3 separate regions of the Homo sapiens genome follow, and regions 1 and 2 are each reported to be linked to region 3. Evidence: microRNA targets listed by miRTarBase, many of them from high-throughput screens and not tested one by one. Region 3 holds a microRNA gene; each other region holds the end of a gene's coding sequence.
Evidence for each region. Region 3 holds the annotated microRNA hsa-miR-103a-3p (AGCAGCAUUGUACAGGGCUAUGA, at 1,058-1,080, opposite strand). A microRNA usually pairs through its seed, bases 2 to 8, with sites in the 3' UTR of a target mRNA and lowers its output. Matches are read on the target gene's strand: a 7mer-m8 pairs with bases 2 to 8, a 7mer-A1 pairs with bases 2 to 7 and ends in A, and an 8mer does both.

Region 1 (3,099 bases), not on the chromosome of region 3:
AATTCTTTCTGCTTGATATGGCCAAATTAGTTTTTTCATAGCAATTGATGGAAACTATGATCATACTTCTTGATTACCTTTGCATAGTCCAAAAGAAACATTTGACTACGCCTTTTTTTTTCCTAATTTTCTTGGAGGTTCTGTGGCTATAACATCAGAGAACATTATATTGACGTTAGAATTTACTTAAAATGAAAATTATTTGGCAACCCCTGTAAATATTTTTGTTGTTGTTGAAAATGAATAAATGTGATTGTATTTGTTCTGATTGGAAATATTTTAAAAATCAGGAACAAATTAAAATTAGGAAATCTATACTTCCTCCCTAAAGAAAATCATATGGTAAACATTATGGTGAAATCAAACATATGGTAAAACCAATTTTTTCTTTCCTAGATATGCAAACATGTGTTGGTAAAAGACATAAAAATAATTGTGTTGGATCTGAGGTGATATGTTCTGAATGTAAGCACCGTCAACATCAGACACCTACTCATGGACATGTGGTTGCCGGATTTTCTTAAGATGTTTCCAGAAATGACTGATATTTTATATTTATACATTTTAGATGACAAAGCTTGATATTTATTGCTGTTGCACATTTTAAAGTTTTCTTTTTGGGTTGCTCTGTGTCAAGAGAGGTTACATGGTGTTAAATCGGTACCTGATAATGTACCCAAATACTATGGCCAGATAATAAATTGTGCTGCAAACAACATGTCTTGTATTTATAGAGGTCTCTGCATACATTTTTAGAGCTTTAGATGATTTGCTATATTTTTTATTCATGTAAAATGTAATTCCAAATAAGAAATTCTGAGTGTATATAGTCTCCAAAGCAGACCATCTGTTTCTGAAACCTTCCCCTGAGGTAGGTGAACAGCTTCCATGTGTAGATGAAATATGGCTGCCATTGATAAAGCTTGTTCTGTGTTTTCAGTGTCATGAAATCCCAGGCTCAGAGAGATATCTCTGCAGTGAATCATTGTGTAAGATACAAGAACAACACTTCTATTCAGGGATCAGGTGTCAGAGGGCCTGGGATAGCAGACAATTCATTAATTTGATTTAGAAGACTAAAAGTAGAGAAGCTTGAGAGAGGATTTTTTTTTTAAAAAAAGACTCAGATAAAAGTACAAAACCTGTTACTGTGAAAATGAACAGGGGTGATAGGAAGAAGAAATGAGACATAAGAAATAACTGATAATTCTTAGTCAACTTGCTAACTCTGTTAGCAAGTTGAATTGGTAGGAAAAACCTGAGGATGGAAACAGTGTGGAGAAATCTTAGCTGCAGATACACAGAGGGCAGAATGGAAGTGATATTGTTGAGTTATTTGAGAATAGGTCCTTTGGGACACTGAAGACTAGTTCTGCAGGTGAAATCTTTATCTTGGAAGACATTGCTCCCAGGCACATTGGGAAATCCTGGGCTGACAGCCCTTTCCTTGATCGAGAAACTTGTGATCACTTCTTAGTCTCCCTTTTCATCCTTTAGGGCCTTACATTACTCTAGTCTAGCTTTCTTCTTTTTTCTTTTCAACGTTTAAGTTTCCTTCTCCAGCCATCTCTCCCTGGATCTCCACAACTTTTCAACAGGGCCAAACTAATCCTATGAAACCTTCTGTCTTCCCAATGTCTTCTGTGCCAGCCACAGCTCTCCCTGCCTTTGCTTTCCTCATGACATTGTATCTGAGTTGCCTAAACAACTCATGTTTCCATGTACTAGCTTCCACTGCTTAGTTCAATGATTTCCATATTCCAGAGTGGTATTTCCTGTACTCTGTGCTTGGATGGGTTAACATCTGATATGGTTTGGCTGTGTCCCCACCCAAATCTCATCTTAAATCATAGTAGGAGGGACCTGGTGGGAGGTAATTGAATCATTGGGGTGGTTACCTCCATGCTGTTCTCATGATAGTGAGTGAGTTCTCAGGATATCTGATGGTTTCATAGGGGGCTTTTTCCCTTTTGCTCAGCACTTCTTCCTGCCATTATGTGAAGAAGGACGTGTTTTGCTTCCCTTTCCGCAATGATTTTAAGTTTCTTGAGGCCTCCCCAGCAATGCAGAACTGTGAGTCAATTAAACCTCTTTCCTTTAGAAATTGCTCAGCCTTGGTCAGTTCTTTATAGTAGCATGAGAATGGACTAATGCATCAACCCTCCCTGCTTGTCTAGTTCTCAATTCTGGTATCATGTCACCTGAATTCTGTTCCTGTTCTCATTTATACAGAACCACCTACTATGGGCAAGTCAGTGGCTTGTTTCTGTTTCATGGAATCTTCTAGCTATGGAGAGCTCAGGTATCAGACTTCAGAAGTAGAGCTTGGCTTGCCTTGTGCATGGAGACTTTAGTCTATGGCCACCACTAGTTAAGAGCAGATTAACTCTGCAAGGCTGGCTCCATAGACACCTCACTTTTTCCTGAGTGGTGCTGTCCTCAGTGTCTTAACACTTAAACACACCATGATATTCTGATATGCTTGATCAAAGGAAAATGTTATATTCTTTATTCAAGTAAAAATAATTGTTGGGACAATGGATAGTTGAGAAATGAGTGAGATCCTTTGTATAGAATTAAAAATTATAGTAATACACTAAGAGGATGTAAAATGAGAGTTGTCCGATGAAAAAGCTATGGACATTGAATGGTGCCTAAAGATAGAAAGGACTCAGTTGAGGGCCAAGAACATTTAGCATCTTAGATTTCCAGAAAGACTAGAAAGAGAAGCTATGAGTATGCAAAACCATTATGTCCCTTCTGAATAGCAAACTAGAAGAGAACTCATTTTCACTAAGAAAGTATATTGTATTTCCTAAATAAAGGAGACATTCTTGGCACTTTTTTGTAGGTTTTTTTTTTTTTTTTTTTTTTTTTTTTTTTGCCAAGTACAAACCAAATTAACCAGGATCTCACAGAGTGGGACTGTTGGAGGCGGCAAACCAGAGCCTGACTTTGGCTGGCAGAATGAGGCCCTGGGGCTGTGTCTGAAAGAACCAACAGAAATGTGACCACATCACTAAGTAATGGACTGGTCGTGAGGCAGAGACCCTGTTAACCAACCTGGAGACGCCACTACACACACATGTGCATGAGCAC
Region 2 (3,099 bases), not on the chromosome of region 3:
CAGTCACTCTCCGGAAACCAGCTCTTCCTTTATCCACCTGCACGGCCCCTGCCACAGTGAGGGAAAGATCTGGTCCCTCTGACAGTAAGGAAATTGTATAGAAATTATCCTGAGGAAAAAAAAAACCACTGTGACGCTACCTAAAAGAAAGAGTATTTCAATTTGCTTACACAGATTTAGTCAGTACACTCCAGACTGTAAGAAATGTATGAAGAGACTGCTTACGGAACTCAAAGACTAAACAGTGAATACTACTGTGGCCCAGACACGGATCGAAAACACTTCTCCCAGTGGCTTCTGGTGCTATGTCTGCTCTCCCGAGAGCGTCCAGCAAGGTCTTCCATGCAGACAGGGTGAGGAGCCACAGAGCTCAAGATTGTTGAAGCTGATTTAGTGAGCTCTGTAAAGCAATACTCAAACAGCTCCGTACGAAAAGGTGTCATTTACATTATTATTTATATATAGTATCTCGAAGTAAGGAAAAAAGCACCATTTTACTGAAAATAAAAAGGCTCACGCAGGCTTTGGTCCTCCTGAAATGACACCAGCCTGAGTGAGAAGCAGTTGGCCCTTGGGGAGCGGGGAGATGATGGAACGCTGTCACCGGCAAGAAGGGAGGCCAAGTGGCCCGGCAAGCCACAAGAATGGGGCAATAAGGGGAGCAGGTGGAGGGGCCTCGGAGAGCAGCCAGGCTAGTCTGGGGATGGAGCCACCTGCTCTGAGAGATCAAAAGTAGGTGTGCGGCACTGTCAGGACAAGTCTCTAGGACTGGGGCATTGGCAAACAAAAGGGGCAATGTCTGACCCGAGATGATGTTCTACTTAATGCATCTCATTTCCCCCAAAACCTGTCACCTGCAGACAGAGGCTTGGACAAGTAGCTCAGATGTACTCTTTTCCCCAGGAACTGCAGGCCGACAAGGACAGAAAAGCTGCAATGACTGCTCCTTTCTCAAGGGATGAAAAAACAGGCTGTTTCTTGGATGCTGCACTTCACAAATGTACTAATTGCCCCCAAAAAAGCAAAGAGTAGATTTTCCTGCCTAGATGCATCACTTGGCATTGACTACACCATGGAAAGCAAGAGTCTGTCTATGTGGGCTGGATTCCTGAACTACAGCTTAGAAGGGAAGGGCGTAGAATATCATCATTAACTGGCTCACAAGGAATAGTCATCTTGGGCGAACACATGCTAATACGTTTCACAGAATGAGGGGTGACAGCCTAGAATCCAAAATGTGATGTTTGGAACATTTCTCGCCAAACCTTACTATGAAAGCCTGCAACCAGTGAGAGGAGAACTGCAAAGACGGCAGCAGAGAAACAGCAAACAGCACAAAAGAGATAATTTACCAAGAGACTTTCCCTCCTTTCAGAGGCAACCAAGCCAGAAGGAGATGACAGAAGTTCACGTGTACAGAGAACAGAAGGGCTAAAACCAGAAGAAGGTGAGCTAATCATGAAAGCAATTTATCCCATTTTTGTTGTTCAATAACACTGGCCAACCTGCTAGGGTCAGATGTCTTCTTCAGAAAGGCAGCATCTCTGAACCTGGGATAAAGGACACTTGAACTGAATGCATGAGCAGAAGGACCCAATGGAGAAGCATAATTGAAATCATCCTTGGACTGCTTAAGAATTTCTTGAAAACTTCCAAAGAAAGAAGGTTATCTGGATCTGCAGCTATATGGCTGTATAACTATCTTCTACCTGGCTCCTCCTGGAAGAGGTCTTTGTCTGCTTGGGAGCTGGGGCTGTTGAGCGGCACAGCCCAGGCACAACCATGCCAGGCTGGGCCTCTAGGCCAAGCTCAGTGAGGGGTGCAGACAATCATCCAACCAGCAATGGAACTCCTTGGAGATGGGGGCCCAAAGGGCAAGACATTTAAACAGGAGTCACTGGGAGATACTCTGCTGCTCAACGAACACCACAGCAAGTGTGAGAGCTCCTTGCCCAAGACTGAGCAGCTCTTCCTCTCCCACCGTGCGTTCACAGGCAGCAGCAGCACGGCGGGAGGGAGCCCAGGAAAGGAAGCGTTGATGAGGTACCAAAAGAAGAACTGACATCTTTGGGTTCTTAAAACAAAAACTCAAATTGAGGAAGCGAGAGAATGAAAAAGGGAAAGAATTAAATCTGAATCAATGGACAGAAATATGTGGCTTACTAACCCACCCCCATTTTGCATACAATTTTATACAAAAAAGGAAAAAAAAAACACCCCAACTCATTGCAATGCAGTCCAAATGTTTGCAACCAAAGATGTATGAAAATATTTCAATTGAAACTGCTTTTTTTTTTTTTAAAAAAAACAAAGCTTTTGATCATTCCCTTGTCAACATAATTGGCAGATCTACTCTCAAACACACTTAAGAGTATTCCACACAACATGTTCGGAATTCAGATTTATTGATTTCCATCGTATTGACTTTAAAAATGGTATGAAGCTGACTGCAAGAAAGGGAACTGGTAATTTTAAGTTAAAATTAAGCTAATGGTGAAAGTACATCACCTCTGGCTTCAGTCACCACATCACCTCAGATTGAATATAGATTTTTTATGAACAAAGTTCCAGAACTCTGAAATCCAGGGATGCTGCAGGCCTCTCCCGGCAATGTCCTTCACTTTGGGTCAGTCTCCTGGGCCAGAGGTGAAAGTGCTTTCAAAAATACTGCCATTTCCCCAGCACAGTGTCTTTGATTGCATCCACATATTGAGTTGGAACCCAGTACACCCAGTAGTAAGAGGCTTCCGTGGGGCCCAACTGAAACGCCTGGAAGGGAAAAAGGAAAACCAAGCGGTACTTCAGAGGTCGGGAGACCAAGCAGGCAGGACAAACATGGGTGAGGGTTGGGATGTGAGTTAATTAAAAAGGGAAGAAAAACCAAACAAAACTTTGCACGTGGGGAGCATTCTCCCAACCAAAAACAAAAACAGGCAGGCTGAGGGTTAAGCTGAGCCAACCCTAAAGCAGCAGTTCTCAAACCTGAGTGGTCATCAGAGCCATCCGGGGGGCTTGCTGGAACATGGATCAGCAGGCTCCAACCCTGTGAAGTTTCTAATTTGGGGAGGTCTGGGGTGGGGCCTGAGAAACTAGCAAGCT
Region 3 (3,171 bases):
TCATAAAAGCTACCCCAAATACAGCACCATGTGCATAGCTCTTAGCAACAATTTGACTGCTGATCAAATTTAGTCCAGTTGGTCCAGGGCTACTTAAACTTGATCCCCAGACAACTCTGGACCCACTGCAAAGCATGCTAGATAATGTCACAGGAGAAGAAAACAGATTAGGAAAAACATTTGTATTAAATCTGACCAACAATAACTAGTTTTGAATACAATGTTTTATACAGATAAGTTAAAATAAACAAAAAAAAACAGTATGACTCCAATCCAAAAGGACAGTGACACAAACAGGCAAAGTATACAAGCAATATAACAGGCAGCGAAAAATTCAAACCACTAGTCATCAAACAAAAGTAAAATTTTAGACCTATTAACCTCGCAAAAAAAAGCAACTGAAATTCCACCACCACCATCAGTAGTTGTAGTAAAATTAATCCACTCATTCACCGCTAAAGATGATCTAAATTGGTGCAGCCCTTGTGCAAAGCATCATGACGATAAATGTCAAAATTCATGAGCATGATCATTTCTGTAGACCAGAAATCTCACTCCTAAGCCCCATATCAAGAATAAAATTCAACCAAAGAATAACTTCATGCTTAAAAATGCTTACTGCCGAGTTATGAGCAAGCAACCAAATGCCAAGCTCTGTTATTTGATATAAAAGAACTTGATCAAATAAATATACAACCATGAAATGTATATTTAAGTATAAAATACAAATTGTGGTATGCACACCAACTAAAATTTCTGAAAATACGTAAGCACAGGAAAGGGAACATACAATAAAGAAAAAAGAAGTTATGATATTCCAACAAATGTTTAATTACTTGATGCTGATACAGTATTTTTTTAATTTAAAATGAGACAAATCCTTTGTGTCTTTTGAGGTTTCCTTTTAAGCTACATGCCTATTATTATCTAAAGAATAACTTCTTAAAAATAAAAATAAAAGAATAATTTAACAACTATACACACAGGGACAAGCCATAAGCTGCACCAACTGGATCCTAGATCCTCTTTTCCCAAGGGCAGCCCATTCTTGGTTCTTTCATAGCCCTGTACAATGCTGCTTGACCTGAATGCTACAAGGCAGCACTGTAAAGAAGCTGAAAGCACAAAGACGCAGCTCTGCTGAGGTGGGGGAGCCAAGGAGGGCACCCCTCGGCCTGCTCAGTCTTCTCCCAGCTTCCGTGACTTCCTCTGGATTCCTCCCTAGGGCCTCTAGAGCTCAGCAGTGAGTGTGGAGTCTACATTCAGCATCGTTATCCATCATCACCCCCAACAGTCCCCAATATCTGGAACACTGGCTACCTTCCACTCTTCCTCTACTTTCTCCTCAAAAGATGTCATTTTACCTCTAGACAAGTAGCAATGTTTATCTTCAGTTTAAAAAAAAAAAAAAGAAGATTAATCTGTATTTGAAGAGTTTTAACTTCGTGCTAAAACAAACCCCACCCCAAATGACTACATTTAGGCACTGTTCTGAGAAAACAGACGTGATGGGGCCCACTTAAGTTCAGTATTTTCCTTAGAGCAATTAAAGAAATCCATGTCCCCTTACTTCATTAAGGGCACACATTCTTGCTATTGAGCCAATGTTGTTGGTGATGGTGATCAAAGTCGCTCTGGCCAGGTCCTCTTTACTGACAGCCTCTCGCTTCTCCTTGCTCATCATGTTTCCAAAGCTGTGATGGGGGAAAAAAAATCCCATTGCTAAACCAACAGCAACAAAGCCCAACAGAACTTGAATGTTACTTTATTGAAATAAAATTAGCTTTTAGGGCAACATTGTTGAAATCTTCAAACCTTTTATTTTGCAATGGAGCATCTGTTCAAAGAGAAATGCAAACTTCAAACAGAGCCCTCCAACATTCTAAATGAGCAGACAGCTTTCCCTGCGGTTTCTACTGAAATCTAGCTTGGATACCAGATATTCACATATTCAGTTAGAATCTCATCAGATGCACTGGAAGGCACCATTGCTCCTGCAACCAGACAGTTCCAGGACAACACCTCTAACAGCAATTCATCTCAACTGCACAGCTGTTCCACTCAGATGGCCACATGCACATCTGGTAAACTGCTCTATCAGAGCAGAGTAAAGCACAGACAGCTGAGTCCCAGAGTGAGCTGCTTAAGAATTTCAGGTTTCCCTAGAAGATAAAGTACTTCAAAGTACATGCTCAGCAGAACTGCTACAATAATTTTCCAATCAGAAAAGGAAGTGATGACCAACGAGCAAATGTTACAAACAGAAAATCAACAGCATTGACCAAGTGCCTAAAACTTAGTAAACAAGCATGTATACATATGATTTTTCTATTAGTAAAAGCCATGTGCCCCAATATACGAAAAACAATTGTACTTCTAAACGATCTCAAAATGGAGACAATGATTTCATTTATAATAGCATTAGAGAATAAAACACTTACGGATATATCTAACAAAAGTATTAACACCTGTACAATAAAATCTACAAAACACTGCTGAAAGAAAGCAAAGATCTAAATCAATGGGAAGACATTCCATCTTTTTGGATCAGAAGACTTTGTATTAGGATGGCCAAAAGATTCAATGTAATCTCTATTAAAATCCCAGTTGTCTTATTTACAGACCTTGCCAAGTTAACCCTACAATTCATATTCTCAAGGTACCCAGAATAGCCAAAATAATCTCGAAAAAAGAACAAGTTGGATGACTCACACTTTCTTACTTCAGAACTTAATACAACGCTACAGTATCAAGGCAGTATGGTACTGGTATAAAAACAGACATATATATCAATGGAACATAACTTAAGAGTCCAGGAGTAAACCCAAACATCTATGGTCAACTAATTTTTGACAAAGGGGCCAAGAGAATTTAACAGGGAAAGAATCATCTTTTCAACAAATGGTACTAGGACAACTGGATATCCACACGCAAAAAGAAATGAACTTGGAGCTCTACCTCACACCATACACAAAAACTTACTCAAAATGGATCAAATATAAGAGCTAAATATAAGAGCTAAAACTGGCGGGCGTGGTGGCTCACGCCTGTAATCCCAGCACTTTGGGAGGCCAAGGTGGGCGGATCACGAGGTCAAGAGATCGAGACCATCCTGGACAATATGGTGAAACCCTGTCTCTACTAAAAATACAAAAATTAGCTGGGTGTGGC

Region 1: the mRNA of STAMBPL1 is a reported target of hsa-miR-103a-3p. Seed matches in the 3' UTR shown: 7mer-A1 at 705-711.
Region 2: miRTarBase lists UBFD1 as a target of hsa-miR-103a-3p. Seed matches in the 3' UTR shown: 7mer-m8 at 1,536-1,542.

Annotation. Positions count from the first base shown.
Region 1 is chr10:88,922,772-88,925,870 of GRCh38, forward strand. STAMBPL1 (STAM binding protein like 1) reads left to right here. Exons shown (of 11, transcript NM_020799.4): 11 at 397-716. The coding sequence ends at 453. Among named protein-coding and RNA genes, the nearest start is that of ACTA2-AS1, 8.4 kb to the right of the region's middle.
Region 2 is chr16:23,570,150-23,573,248 of GRCh38, reverse strand. UBFD1 (ubiquitin family domain containing 1) reads right to left here. Exons shown (of 7, transcript NM_019116.3): 7 at 1-2,769. The coding sequence ends at 2,659. Among named protein-coding and RNA genes, the nearest start is that of UBFD1, 14 kb to the right of the region's middle.
Region 3 is chr20:3,915,450-3,918,620 of GRCh38, reverse strand. MIR103A2 (microRNA 103a-2) reads right to left here and starts at 1,127; the gene lies at 1,050-1,127. PANK2 (pantothenate kinase 2) reads right to left here. Exons shown (of 7, transcript NM_001386393.1): 5 at 1,571-1,694. MIR103B2 (microRNA 103b-2) reads left to right here and starts at 1,058; the gene lies at 1,058-1,119.